Regions from separate parts of the Homo sapiens genome. Here all the other regions are linked to region 1. The links come from fine-mapping of genetic effects on gene expression. A gene starts in region 1. Each other region holds a variant in brackets. All regions are shown on one strand. Distances are from middle to middle.

Region 1 (4,242 bases):
AATTTTTGTATTTTTAGTAGAGATGGGGTTTCACCATGTTGGTTAGGCTGGTCTTGAACTCCTGACCTCAAGTGATCCACCCGCCTCGGCCTCCCAAACTGCTGGGATTACAGGCATGAGCCACCGTGCCCAGCCTCTATACCTTTTCTATAGTGTTCTTTTTGCTCTTGTTGAAGCCTCCCTTCTCCCTTAAGACCCAGCCAAAGGTCAGCTTTCCCAGGGAGTAGGCGTCCTCCTTGGAGCACTCAGCTCATGTTGTTATGGCTCTTTTTCATGTTTTCCCCACAGCCTCTCATAACTAGTGATAAGTTTTTCCACAGGTATCACTGTTCCCCCTTGCTGGAACCCTCTCTTTCTCCCCAATGAACTCTAAGATTTTACTTTTTTATTTCTCAATTGTATCTCTAACCTTCTAAGGCTTTGATAAAAGTATATCTTATGAGCATACACTGTTATTAAGTCATAATTTTTGGCCATAGAAATTCCCTGAGTACAGATCCCTCGACTGCCCAAGCTAAGGTCTGTAGTTTCTCCATGAAAACGATTCACCCAGGTCACTTTGGGTTCTGAGAGGCTGGAACTTATTTCTATAAACCTAATACTAAAATGAAATATTTTTGTCTGTTTTCACTATTGCTTAGCATCTGAGCGCTGAGCATTAGGCAGTTTTAGTTACTCAAAGTATCTAAGGAAAGATGTTTTCTGGCTGATGCTTAATGTTTTCTTAACGCCCAAGAAATGGGACTCCAGCGGCTCTAAAAATGGCATTTAAGATGAGAATCAGGCCGGGTGCAGTGGCTCATGCCTATAATCCTAGCACTTTGGGAGGCTGAGGTGGTAGGGTCACTTGAGCCCAGTTCAAGATCACAGTGAGCTGTCACGGTGCCACTGCATTCCAGCCTGAGTGAAGGAGTGAGACCCTGTCTCTTCAAACAAAACAAAAAGACGAGAATCACAGTGTTGCTTGGTAGTGTAGAAAAAGCGTTTATCAACACTGTAGGCCCCTGTCAAGCTTACATTTGGAGTGAGGAGTAAGGAAGGGAAGGGACTTATGCAGGTCTTTCCATGCGGCCTTGATTTAGTCCACGGAGTCCAAAGCCCATTCTGAGGCAGGGTCTCTAGGTTCTTGGTTTACACCTGCAGGCCGATCCACAGACTAGAGGGCAGCTTGTTAGACTTTGGAAACACTTAGATTAGGGGGGAGATGGAAACTCAATCCCAAAGGGACAGTAAAATGAGCCTAAGGTCTGGCGGGACGATAGCTCTTAGCGTGTAAGGAACAACAGAAAAACAAAATAGTGTTTCTGTGGGTGTGCTGGGTGAGGAGGGGAAACAGCCGGAAGAGGGGATCCGAGAAGAACTAAAGGAGCCCACGAAGCATGCAGCTCCTCGGAGGAGCCGGGGATGATCACTGCCCATATCCTCCCGCCACAGCGCAAGCCGCCCGGGCGGTCCCGGCCGGCAGAGGGCAGCAACTGGGCGGGCGACGCCTGGCAAGGGCCGCCCCGCGCTGACCCGCTCGCAGGGATCCTCATTCTGAGCCCGAGGCGAGGGGGACTCGCACCCACTGCCACCTCTCCCTGACCCTCTGGCCACCATGCACCTCGGCCCGGCTGAGGGGAGTCGGGGGGTCGGGGGAGAGGGCGTAGCTGCCGAGAGCCTGGCGCCCCTGCCCGGAGGAGGAGAACGGAGGACGCCCTCCCGGGTCTCCGGAAAGGAAGGGGGACGGGGTTCGGTGGGTCCTGGGACGGGGATGGGAGGGAACGTGGGCGAGCTGGGAGCCGCCCTCCGCAGCCTGGACTTTCCTGGCCTTTCTCTACTCCGAAGCAGCACCGGGCCGCTCCGGTCCCCGCCAGCCCCTGCCAGCTCCGCTTCCGGGGGCCACGACCCTCGCTCGACTTCGGCCGCTGTGCGCCTCCCGCCGACTCTGACCCAGGGACCCGGAGACCAAGTCCGGCTGGCCGAGGCCCGCGGGCCGCGGCGCAAGTTCCGCTCCCACCGTCGAGGACTGTGGAGGCGGCGTGGGCTGGTCTCCGCGGCCGGGGGGCGGGAGCGCCGGGCGGACTTGACCGTGGGCGCCAAGCGTCCCGGCCGCGCGGCGCGGGCTTTATGTAAATGGAGGCTGCGCCGGGCGTCCTAGGTAGGATGGACCAGCCCCCCGCGCCTCGGCCCTCACGTCCAATAAGAAGAGCCCCAGCTTGACACCTGCCTATATACAGGCGAGCGCGCCCCCGGGCCGCGGACCGCGCGCACAGCCCGCACTGCCCCACGCCGCGGGCTAGGGACACCCGGCCCGCCACCATGACTTCCAGCAAGATAGAGATGCCCGGCGAGGTGAAGGCCGACCCCGCCGCCCTCATGGCGTCGCTGCACCTCCTGCCGTCGCCCACGCCCAATCTCGAAATTAAGTACACCAAGGTAAGCGGCCGCCCAGCGCCCGTCGTCCACGGAGACTTTCTAGAACCTTCTTCGGTTTCCCCGATCTCTTCAGCGGGTGAGGGCTGCGGGACGGGGCCGGGGTCGTCGGGGCCAGCCTGTCATCCCGGCGCAGCAGAGGGACCCCCTGCCTGTCTTCGGGACTGGGGCGTTTGAAGCCCCGCCGTGGTCTGAGGACGCCTTGGGGACTTAACCCAACCCGAAGCGCAGCGTTGAGGGGCAGCCGTCAACGGCTCCTGCCCCGGACTCTGAGGCTGGTTTCTGTCCGATTCTCCCGGTCCCGACTGCCGCGGGGGAAGGCGTCGGAACCGCTTAGTATCCTCAGATGGAGGCCGGGGTTCCCCGTCAGCTTGGCCACGCAGCCTGGCCGTCGCCTCTCGGTCCTCCGCCTTCCGGGCCCCTCGGCTGTTGGTCCCAATCAGGTCCTCCACAGCCCGGAGGGTGCTGAGGGGCTTTCCCGTAAGGAATTGTCAAGACACCAGCGCTCTGGCCGGTTTGACAAATTTCACGGAAACCTGACTGATAAGTACAGTAACTCCAACGTCAGCGTTTCATGTGAATTTTGTAGGCAGCGGCAGTTTCCCTGGGAAACTTAAAAAGTTTTAATATTTGTTAGCATGTTCGGTTTTGAACTGAAGAACTTACTTTTTTTTTTTTATAACGAACGTTGACATCTTGGGTTTGCTAAGCAGGATTTTTGTTGTTGCATCGCCTAAAAAAGAATATGCGTCTGCTACCTAATATAAAATGAATTTACTTTCCACAAATTCGACATAGAAAAAAAATGATCGATTACAAACGTAGGGGTATTGTAATGTTACAACATTTTGAGGGAGGTGGTGAGAGAGAGATGGGATTGAAAACCACGTTTCTTGGAGTTCATTTTGTAGTTCTCTGGTTTGATTTTCTAGTCCTTTCGGTACATTTCTACACTCAACTTCTCCCAATTAACGCAAACGCATAGACGCACATGCATATGGTTAAAGGTTGATTAAAGATGTATTCCATCGTGCTTTTTTACAAGATAAATTTTGTAGAGAAGTAAATTGTTTGCATCTGGCTTAGTGGTTGAATGAGATATACAAGAAACAACATCAGAATATTGAGATTTTACTTGCATTGAGTTTTAGGTTACAAATCAGGGCGATTTGTGTTTTGAATGTCGATTTAGATGGATTTAATGTACCTGCTAGCTTTTTTAGATGGTGTGACAAATTTTTCAAAGCCGTTTTAATGAGAGGTCGTTAATGGTTATAACCTTTTAGGCATTGTTTGCATAACAATAGTGCCAATGTGTGGCACTTGTCTGGGTTTAGGAACGAGCAGGGAAAGCATGCAGCTTAGAAGTTTTATTTTATGAGGGTCTCTAACCTCTTCAGGCTCTTTTTAAAGGTCTTAAAATGGAAGATCTACACAGGAGAAAAGACCTAACCCTCAGATTTGGGAAGGTTTGATTTTAGTCTTATTTTTGATGGGATTTTTCTAACAGCCTCTGAAAGAAATTTTAGGTATGCAATAGGTACGTTTTTCAGAATTTAATTTGGAAGCTCTTCCAGTTCTCTTACTCCCTAACTACCCCCTCTCTCTTTTCTCTCTTGTTCTCCCCCAGTAGGAAAGACAACTGATTTATAGCTAATTGGAGCCTTTAATGTGGAGTCTTTTAGCTCGGGGAACTTTTATCCAGTATCCACTTTCCCACTTAATACAAAGAAAAACAATCAGAAATGAAATAATGGATTGTAACTTGATTCTTTAATTTGTGGGGAGGAGGTACCTTATTTTTGCCTTGACAAACAACCCTCATAA
Region 2 (4,242 bases), 140 kb after region 1:
TGACAAAGACATCTATGACGAAGCCCAAGTGAATGGTGATGGGCACCTGACCCAAGACAGCAACAGAGGGGAAAGAGAAAAGTCAGATGTGAGAGCTACTTGCAGAATGCATTTGAAAGAATGAATCTGAGTGGATAAAGATGTCCGAATGGACATCAGGCTAGTGTGTTAATAGGAAAAATTCTGACCCAAGGATTGCTATTTCAGCATCCTGTTTCTCCTTCTCTCTCCTTGCCACCATATGCCCTTGTTTTCTTAGATCCTTTCCTTGTTCTCTTGCTGCTACTTCTTTTTACATTTTATCCATTGAGACTTGAAATGTCATCATTACCATTTAGGTAAGCCACCATCACCATTACCCCATGAATTGCAAGAGCTGAGGCCAAAAACAGAAGCTCAGGAGGCAGGAGGTGGGTCCCTGTTGTACAGCATTTCTCAGTCATAGGAATAACAGAACCACTTGCATATTGCTTCACAGTGTCCACAGTTTTTTACATCTGTGCTTCACTTTCCAACTTGTCTGTAGGAAAGGCAAATTTTATTATTCCCATTTCAGGGAAGAAGGAACTGAGGTGGGTTCATAGCACGCTCTCAGGCAAGCAGTGTCGAGTAGCCCATATACTTGCTGTCCCAATAAACCCAGACTGGTTTCCTCCCTCTGCTTCTAGGACCTTAGGCTGTTACCCAGACACTTGAAGAGTCAATTTCCTTCTCTGAAAATGAGGACAATAAAAGTATCTGCCTCCTGGGATCATTGCACATGCTGAAAGAAATCATGCATATAAAGTGCTTAGCATAGACTTGAAGTCTCTATAAATGTTAGCCATTGCATTTATAGGTCTTCTAGCTCCAAAGTCCCAGCTCATTCTACTGTATCACAGTGTTCCTTGCTTCTGGGAGAGGAGACATTTTTTTCAGAAGGCTGTAGTTTGCCGTACAGGCCACTGAATGGATTTCTGCCTGCTGACAAAAGAAAAAAAATGCCAAAAATGAAGCATGAATATTTCACTGGCCTGGTGTGTCATTCAATAGCCACAACTTATGCCCTGAAGTTATTTAAAATACAAAGTAGGCCGGGAAAGGTGGCTCACGCCTGTAATCCCAGCACTTTGAGAGGCCGACGCGGGCGGATCACAAGGTCAGGAGATCAAGACCATCCTGGCTAACACGGTGAAACCCCATCTTGACTAAAAATACAAAAAATTAGCCAGGTGTGGTGGCACGCACCTGTAGTCCCAGCTACTTGTGTGGCTGAGGCAGGAGAACTGCTTGAACCCGGGAGGCAGAGGTTGCAGTGAGCCAAGACCGTGCCACTGCACTCCAGCCTGGGCAGCTAAGTGAGACTCCATCTCAAAAAAAAAAAAAAAAAAAAAGAAAGAAAGAAAGAAAATACAAAGTAGATAGGTAGGTAGTGTCGATGGAGAGATATGCTAGTTTTTAAAGGTCCACTCCCAGCCCCAATGAAACCTCCTATACTTGGACCAAGTTTAAGTCTGATAGGGTGAAATGTTGACATGGCTATGTGTCTTACAAGGACACCCGCTACTGGGCTTGGGTGGAGTTTTTGGCTTGCATTTCTTGGCAGTTTCAAGTAGAAATTACAATCGGAAGTATCAGGGTGTTTCTGAGATCCTGGCAATGCTGGGTATCTGCATTGGTAACAAAGGCAAGGAGCCAAGCAGTGTGTCCTCCAAGCAGCCACTCACTGACTGGAAGACTTTCTCAAGAAAAACATATTTCCAGTTCCCACATCAGGATCTACTTCTACCTCCTGAGTCTTTTCTACACACTTCTCTCCAGTGCTGATGCTCTATAATGAACGATGTGAAGGTGGTGGGGCATGGGGAGGAGGGCAAAAGGATGGGCATGTTATTTGGGGGCATGATGGGGATGGATATCTTAGGGAAAACAATTAAAGAAGAAAGGAGGAGGGCTTCCACTCTGCCTGGCTGGATGGAATAAATGTTTGAGCAGCATTCTGTCCAGCTGGGGAAAGGCCAAGACTAATTTAACCTTTGGTCAAATG[G/T]TTGGGAGTTAGCTAGTTTCCTTTTTCCTCTTACATCACTCCCAGAGATTCAGACAAAAATAACATGGTCCCGATTACATGACATTATGGGCTCTGAAAATACACCAGGGAGGATAGTGTTGAAACCCCTCAGAGGCAAATTAATCCTAGCAAAGCAACAGCTGTAAGATTGATACAAACAGGAGAAACAACAGCATATTGGTTCCAGGTTTGCTTAAAAGCTTATTTTAATCCAAGCAATTTTTTAAAAGGGTTAAAATCACTAATTGGGAGGGTTTCTGTTACTTAAAAATGGAGCTTTACGAAATACCTCTATATGCTGTTGTCCACTGGCATACTTTTGGATTTAATTCCCAAATTCTCTTTTATATCCTTATTGTTTAAAGCAGAAATAAATGCAATGGTGAGAAAGAGTTTGCCTCTGCTGAATCAGAGCTTCCACACCAGGCCTGTATCGGGGAAGTGAAGGTGTGGGAGTCACCTCTGTCCTGGGCTGCTTGCCCAAATCTGGCAGGCAGGAGCTGGGCACCTGCCCCTCCTCCCTGAGCTGATCCTGTCCAGAGCGGACACTTGAGTGTTTCCTGAAAGCACAGCTTGCAGCCCCTGGAGGACAATCTGCAGAACTTGTATGCACCATTTACACTCAAAAATCAAAATATTTCCTCTCCCCGGGACACAGCAGCCCCCTCCACACCCGCCCACTTTGCAATCGGGCATTACTTGGAGACCCAGTATGAACCCTAGAATAGAAATCTCACAGCTGGAGCAGAACTTAACCAAAAGGAACACACTTTAGGACAAGAGGAAATTGATCATAATGGTTACAGGCATGGTCTCTGTACTCAGGCTGCCTGAATCCAAAGCCAGCTCAGCCCATTGCTGTTTGTGTGACCTTGGGCAATTGCCCCTCTGTGCCTCAGTACCCTTGCATGGGAAATAGAAATAAGAACAGCATCTACACCACAAGGTAGTTGGGAGGATGAATGATACTGTTTGGAAGGTACACAGGCCTAACAAATAACAAGAACAAAACAATCAAGCTGCTCTCCTTGTCAGAACCACAGTGGTCTTGGAGGTCTTAGCAAACTTACTCTAGAAATTCGGTGGTGGCTGATGGATGGCCTCAAGTAATCTTCGGGACTGGGCTAATTTCTAACTCTTCCATCATAAAGGTAAAGACTCTCAGGACAGCAGCCATGTAATCAATGAAGAGTCCCAATGCCAAGTCAGATGAGCAAGCAGAAGAGATCCATGTTTTTCTCTTGGGAACAGAGAAAGTGGTTTGGGCTCTGCTTGGATGGGGGCTAGGGGTTAGTTGCGAGGGAAGAGGGAACAAGCTCATTAACACATAGAAGGCAGATGAGCCATTTGAAGGGAATGCTGAAGCTTGGGAAACACTGCTTCCACGCATCCATCTATCCATTAAGTCATTCAACAGATCTCCATTTAATCTGTGCCTGGTGAATACTGTGCTAAGGTCTATTCATACAGAATGAGCATTGGATAAAGCTTACAGAATAATAGCAGAGATACATTTAAAATTTAATCACATGAATATTTAACTTAAAATTGTGTTTTTTTGTGTTATTTTAAATAATAGAGAACTATGATAGGAAATAATGGGGGGTGGGGGCACAGAAATGATCCCAGGGGACTGAGCAGCTGGAGGTTTGAACCTGTTCCTCATAGTGCCTCCTGGACAGGTCAACAGCCTCATTTCACCAGCTCTGGTCCTTCTTGACTTTGGTCTTGTAAACTATTACCCCTTCTGCCTCGGCAACAACTACCCCCAACCCCACCAATGCCCACTTTCACCTTGGGAATAGGCATTAGATTAGCACTCCACTTTTATTAACATTCTCTCCATGCAGAAACCCAGGCATGGGTGGGAAGTGGTTGTTTGTCAAGTCACACGTCTGGTTGGGACTAGAACTAGGACTCCTGAGTCTGGGATAGTTGCTCCTCCCCTGTACCCTGTGACTCAGAGCTCATATGATGACCCCTCTGGCTGACTTCTTTCCCAAGAAATAATGATGAGGCAAATGTATCTTACACAAACATCTCCTAGAGAAATTCATTTTGGGGCAGCCCTACTGTTGGGGGAAACTTGGTCCTTTCTTGGAGACCCCTGATGTGTTCTGAGGTCCCTCCAGGATCCCATCATATAAAAATAACAATACAATGGAATAAAATTAAACAAAGTGAAATAAGCCATT
Region 3 (4,242 bases), 270 kb before region 1:
TTGGGCTGAAAAAAAACATGTAGTCCAATATTTCCTAAACTTTAATGCGCACGTGAATCACCTAGAGTGGAGCCTGAGACCTGCCTTTCCGAACCATGCTGAGGTTCTCCCTGTCAGAGAAGCAAGGAAATAGAGAACCCAAGTTTGGTTTCAAACTCTTAAAGAAAAACAGTGAAATGCTTTCTTCCAACTAAATCTTATATGGGCATCCAACGAGTAAAACATAAAAGTGGAGCCAACCGTGATTGAAGTGAAGGGGGCTGCCAGAAGCCTCATTCAAAATGCTTTTTCTCCCCTCCCAACTCCCGGAACCTCAAGGAAACGCAAGCCCTCGCCCACTGGCTCGGACCTTCTCCCTGCCTCCCACCAGAGCTGCGCCACCTAATACCAGTCACAGTAGTTACTGAGCATTTGATATGTGGCTGGGGTGACTGAGGAACAGAATTATTCATTTTATTTAAATTAATCTAAGTTAAAAGCTGAAGCAGTATCAAATACTTTTCTGTTAAACACAACTTTATTATTTTGGTAGGACAGTTCATTACATCGCCTAAGATCTTGTAGTCAACACAAATACCTCACTGATCTAGTGGGTGTCAGGCAGGTAATTCAGTTTGAATGATTTCTTTCTTTGTATCTGATTTAACTTGTGTTTATTTGAATATTTCATGCAGGCAACATGAGTTACAGTGTAAACTGTAATTAGTAATAAGTTTTGTTAAACTTTTTAACATTATTGCATTTAATTGTAATATCATTAAGTTGGTTTTCTAGTTAAGTATAGATAAAAATTTAAATTAAAAATGAAGACATACTACTGTCATGGAATCTAGTGGAGATGCAGAAGCTAATATTGTGACTGGAACAGTAAAAAAAAGATTGGAGCAAATTTTAGATTTCAGGGCAGTCTCAGTTTGCTATGGCAGAGCAAAATGCAAAAGCTATTATTGTATAAAACATTTAAAAATAATAAAGTGAGTAATATTAAGAGAAATTTGCAGGAAATGCACAGTGAATTTGATAAGAACTTTCCTTTGAATAGCCAAAAAAGAATCAATGAACTCAGACACCTGAAATAAGAAGTAAATGTCCAATAAAATTTTTAAAAATTTTTCAGCATTATCTGAGTGTGTGCCTTTGGTTATCTTTAAAATGGCTTGGATTCTTGAACGAAAATGGAAATCACTTTTAGGTGGACAAAGAGTAAAATAAATTATCTCAGTTATGAAAATTTGTTGGAAATGATAATGGAAAAGACTAAAAATACCATTTTATAAAAAGTGAAAGATCTTCAATTAAGCCACCAAACAGTTGTTAGTAGAATATAAGACCATTTAATAATATCAAAGATAAATTGATTCAAATTTGAAAAACTGCAAGTACTTTTCTCCAGGTTTCGATGAGCTCAGTGATGTAAAAGACACTGTTCAGTTAGCACTTAGACAACTTTCTTCTCAAACGACTTCCAAATTTACAAAGAAATGTGAATTTGTGCCCTAAAAAGTTGAACTCAAGGCATGAATATCTTTGAATCTCTCTATTTTTTTTGCTTCACCTTTCTAATCTTTACTTTCTTCTTCTTTTTTTTTTATTATTACACTTTAAGTTCTAGGGTACATGTGCACAATGTGCAGGTTTGTTACATATGTATACTTATGCCACGTTGGTTTGCTGCACCCATTAATTCGTCATTTACATTAGGTATTTCTCCTAATGCTATCCCTCCTCCAGCCCCCAATCCCCTGACAGGCCACGGTGTGTGACGTTCCCTGCCCTGTGTCCAAGTGTTCTCATTGTTCAATTTCCACCTATGAGTGAGAACATGTGGTGTTTGGTTTTCTGTCCTTGCGTGAATCTCTTATAGCTATCAAAGAAATTCATTTAGATATGAAAAAATTAGCTTCTGTTGTAATTGTGATCTAGTTACATCAGTTTAAAAATGTAGATTTATTAGAATCTTGGAATAAGAGATTGATGTTTCCCTTAATTCTTAATTCCATGATGTAATACGTATTACTGAAACTACATGTGCTCAGTTTTCTGAAGGAGACTATGAAAGCTGTATGGATGCAGTTGTTAAGATTGTTCAGTATATGTGCAAAAGCTATGAATCATCACCAGTCTGTGGAACCACTGAAAGAAATAGAAGATGATGAATTTAACGATCCTGTGTTCTTTGCCAATACTGGTTGATTGAGTCGTGGAAGAGTTTTACAAAGATTTGCTGTACTGTTAGATCCAATTCAAGATTTTCTTGAAACCAAAGGAATACTTGCCAAATAGTCAAAGACACAAAATGGTAATGTGATTTGTGTTTTCTCTTCAATGTTACACTGCATATGAACAAGCTAAATTTGAAGTTTCAAGTAAAGGAACAGCTTATTTGTGACCTAATTAGACAGGCACAAAAATTTATGTTGAAATTGAAGACTTTCATAATTCAAACCAATGATAACAATTTTACATCTTTTTTCTA[A/G]CATAAATCAAGTGCAGAAGATTTAAATTGTAACTGTAAGTACAGGGGCTAGGCGCGTGCCTTATGCTTATAATCCCGAACTTCGGGAGGCTGAAGTGGGAAGACTGCTTGAGACCAGGAGTTCAAGACCAACCTGGACAACGGAGCAAGACTTTGTCTCTACAAAAAAACAGAAACCAAAACCAAAAAAAGAAAAAACAAAAAGAAAAAACAAACAACAACAACAACAAGAAACCCTACCAAAATACCAAAACCACACAACAAACTAGCCAGGCGTAGTGGTGTAGTGGTACATATCCATAGCTCTAGCTACTCAGGAGGCTGAGGCAGGAAGATCCCTTAATTCCAAGAGTTCAAGGCTGCAGTGAGCTATGATTATACCACCACAGTCCAGCCTGGGTGACAAAGCCAGACTCTGTCTCTCTCTACAAAATACAAACAAAAACCTATTAAGAGGGTAGATCTCATGGTAAATGTTCTTGCCACAATAAAACAAAATTTTAAAACCAAAAAAGAAAGTACAGTTGGCCTATATTCTCAGGTTGAACCAGCTTACAATGTCATCTGCAGATTCAATGGACAGTACATAGAAAATATTTGGGAAAGAATAAAAATCACAATACAACAATAAAAAGTAATACAAATTTAAAAACAATACACTGTAAAATAATTATCTGCAAGCATTTTCATTGTATTAGGTATTATAAGTAATGTATCAGTGACTGAAATTATACAGGAGGATGTGTATAGGTTGTATGCAAATACTACTTCATTTTATATCAGGGACTTGGGCAGCCATAGATATTCATATCCTCTGGAGGGTCCTGGAGTACTATGTAAATTGGTTGCAAAAAGTCTCTTTTCTAGAAAAACTGGGAAGACATTTTGTTCATATTGATACATTTAGAATTCTTTTCCTATTTATTTATATATTATTCTTTTGAGTTCATGCCAGTGAGACTGAGCTGACCCAAGAGTTGGTGAATTTACCTAACTTGGACAAAAGTTTATTTAAAATGGGTACACTTTTTCTTCTAAAAAAAGGTGAGCTATTTTGGCCAATGTAGATGCAAATATTAAAATAAAATTGGGTCCAGGCATGGTGGCTCACACCTGTAATCCCAGCACTTTGGGGGGTTGAGGCAGACGGATCATCTGAGTTCAGGAGTTCGAGATCAGTTTGGCCAACATGATGAAACCCCTTCTTTACTAAAAATACAAAAAAATTTAGCAGGGCGTAGTAGTGCATGCCTGTAGTTTCAGCTACTCAGGAGGCTGGAGAATCGCTTGAACCAGCAAGGTGGAGGTTGCAGCCGGCAGACTTCATGCCACTGCACTGCAGCCTGGTCAAGACAGCAAGACTCTGTCTCAAAAAAATAAAAAGAAAAAAATTATTTTTGATGTTTGATTGACTTATTTCGAAACTTTTAAATGTGTTTAGAACACTTTGGTTATATGAATCTATTTTTTAATGGTATATTTTTTAAAATCTAAATACAAATTTAGTATTTCTGATGAAAATTTGGTGTTCAAATCGAGATGTCCTTTAAGTATAAAATAGCCACCAGATTTTGAAGGCTTAATATGAAAGAAAGAATGTAAACTATATTATTAATTGATTTATTATGTTTGATTGTATGTTGAAATAATATTTTGAATATATTGGGTTAAATAAAATATATTATTTAAAGTAATTTTTCTTGTTTCTTCTTACCTTTTTAATGTAGCTATTAGACTACTAGACAATTCAACATTATGTACTTGGC

Direction of the effects. Alleles are on the strand shown, and positions count from the first base shown. SD is a standard deviation of normalised expression in the study named. Not every link is listed here.
As copies of G replace T in region 2, the expression in tibial artery of the gene that starts at base 2,241 in region 1 goes down (small effect, 0.22 SD a copy in GTEx).

What was found. PIP is the estimated chance that this variant, and not a neighbour inherited with it, causes the effect.
Region 2: its variant is the best candidate, but not a certain one, in a credible set for the expression of ALDH1A2 in tibial artery (GTEx, PIP 0.81).
Region 3: its variant is the best candidate, but not a certain one, in a credible set for the expression of ALDH1A2 in whole blood (TOPMed, PIP 0.79).

What each region holds. Positions count from the first base shown.
Region 1 is chr15:58,063,710-58,067,951 of GRCh38, reverse strand. ALDH1A2 (aldehyde dehydrogenase 1 family member A2) reads left to right here and starts at 2,241. Exons shown (of 13, transcript NM_003888.4): 1 at 2,241-2,418. The coding sequence starts at 2,302. It overlaps ALDH1A2-AS1 (ALDH1A2 antisense RNA 1), which reads right to left and starts at 2,727. Exons shown (of 3, transcript NR_147215.1): 1 at 2,210-2,727; 2 at 1,018-1,137. RefSeq lists a silencer at 1,386-1,575 and enhancers at 2,184-2,703, 2,704-3,223.
Region 2 is chr15:57,921,314-57,925,555 of GRCh38, reverse strand. No RefSeq gene overlaps it. Among named protein-coding and RNA genes, the nearest start is that of ALDH1A2-AS1, 140 kb to the left of the region's middle. The variant G/T (reference allele first, on the strand shown) is at 2,027.
Region 3 is chr15:58,338,241-58,342,482 of GRCh38, reverse strand. No RefSeq gene overlaps it. Among named protein-coding and RNA genes, the nearest start is that of LIPC, 92 kb to the left of the region's middle. The variant A/G (reference allele first, on the strand shown) is at 2,477.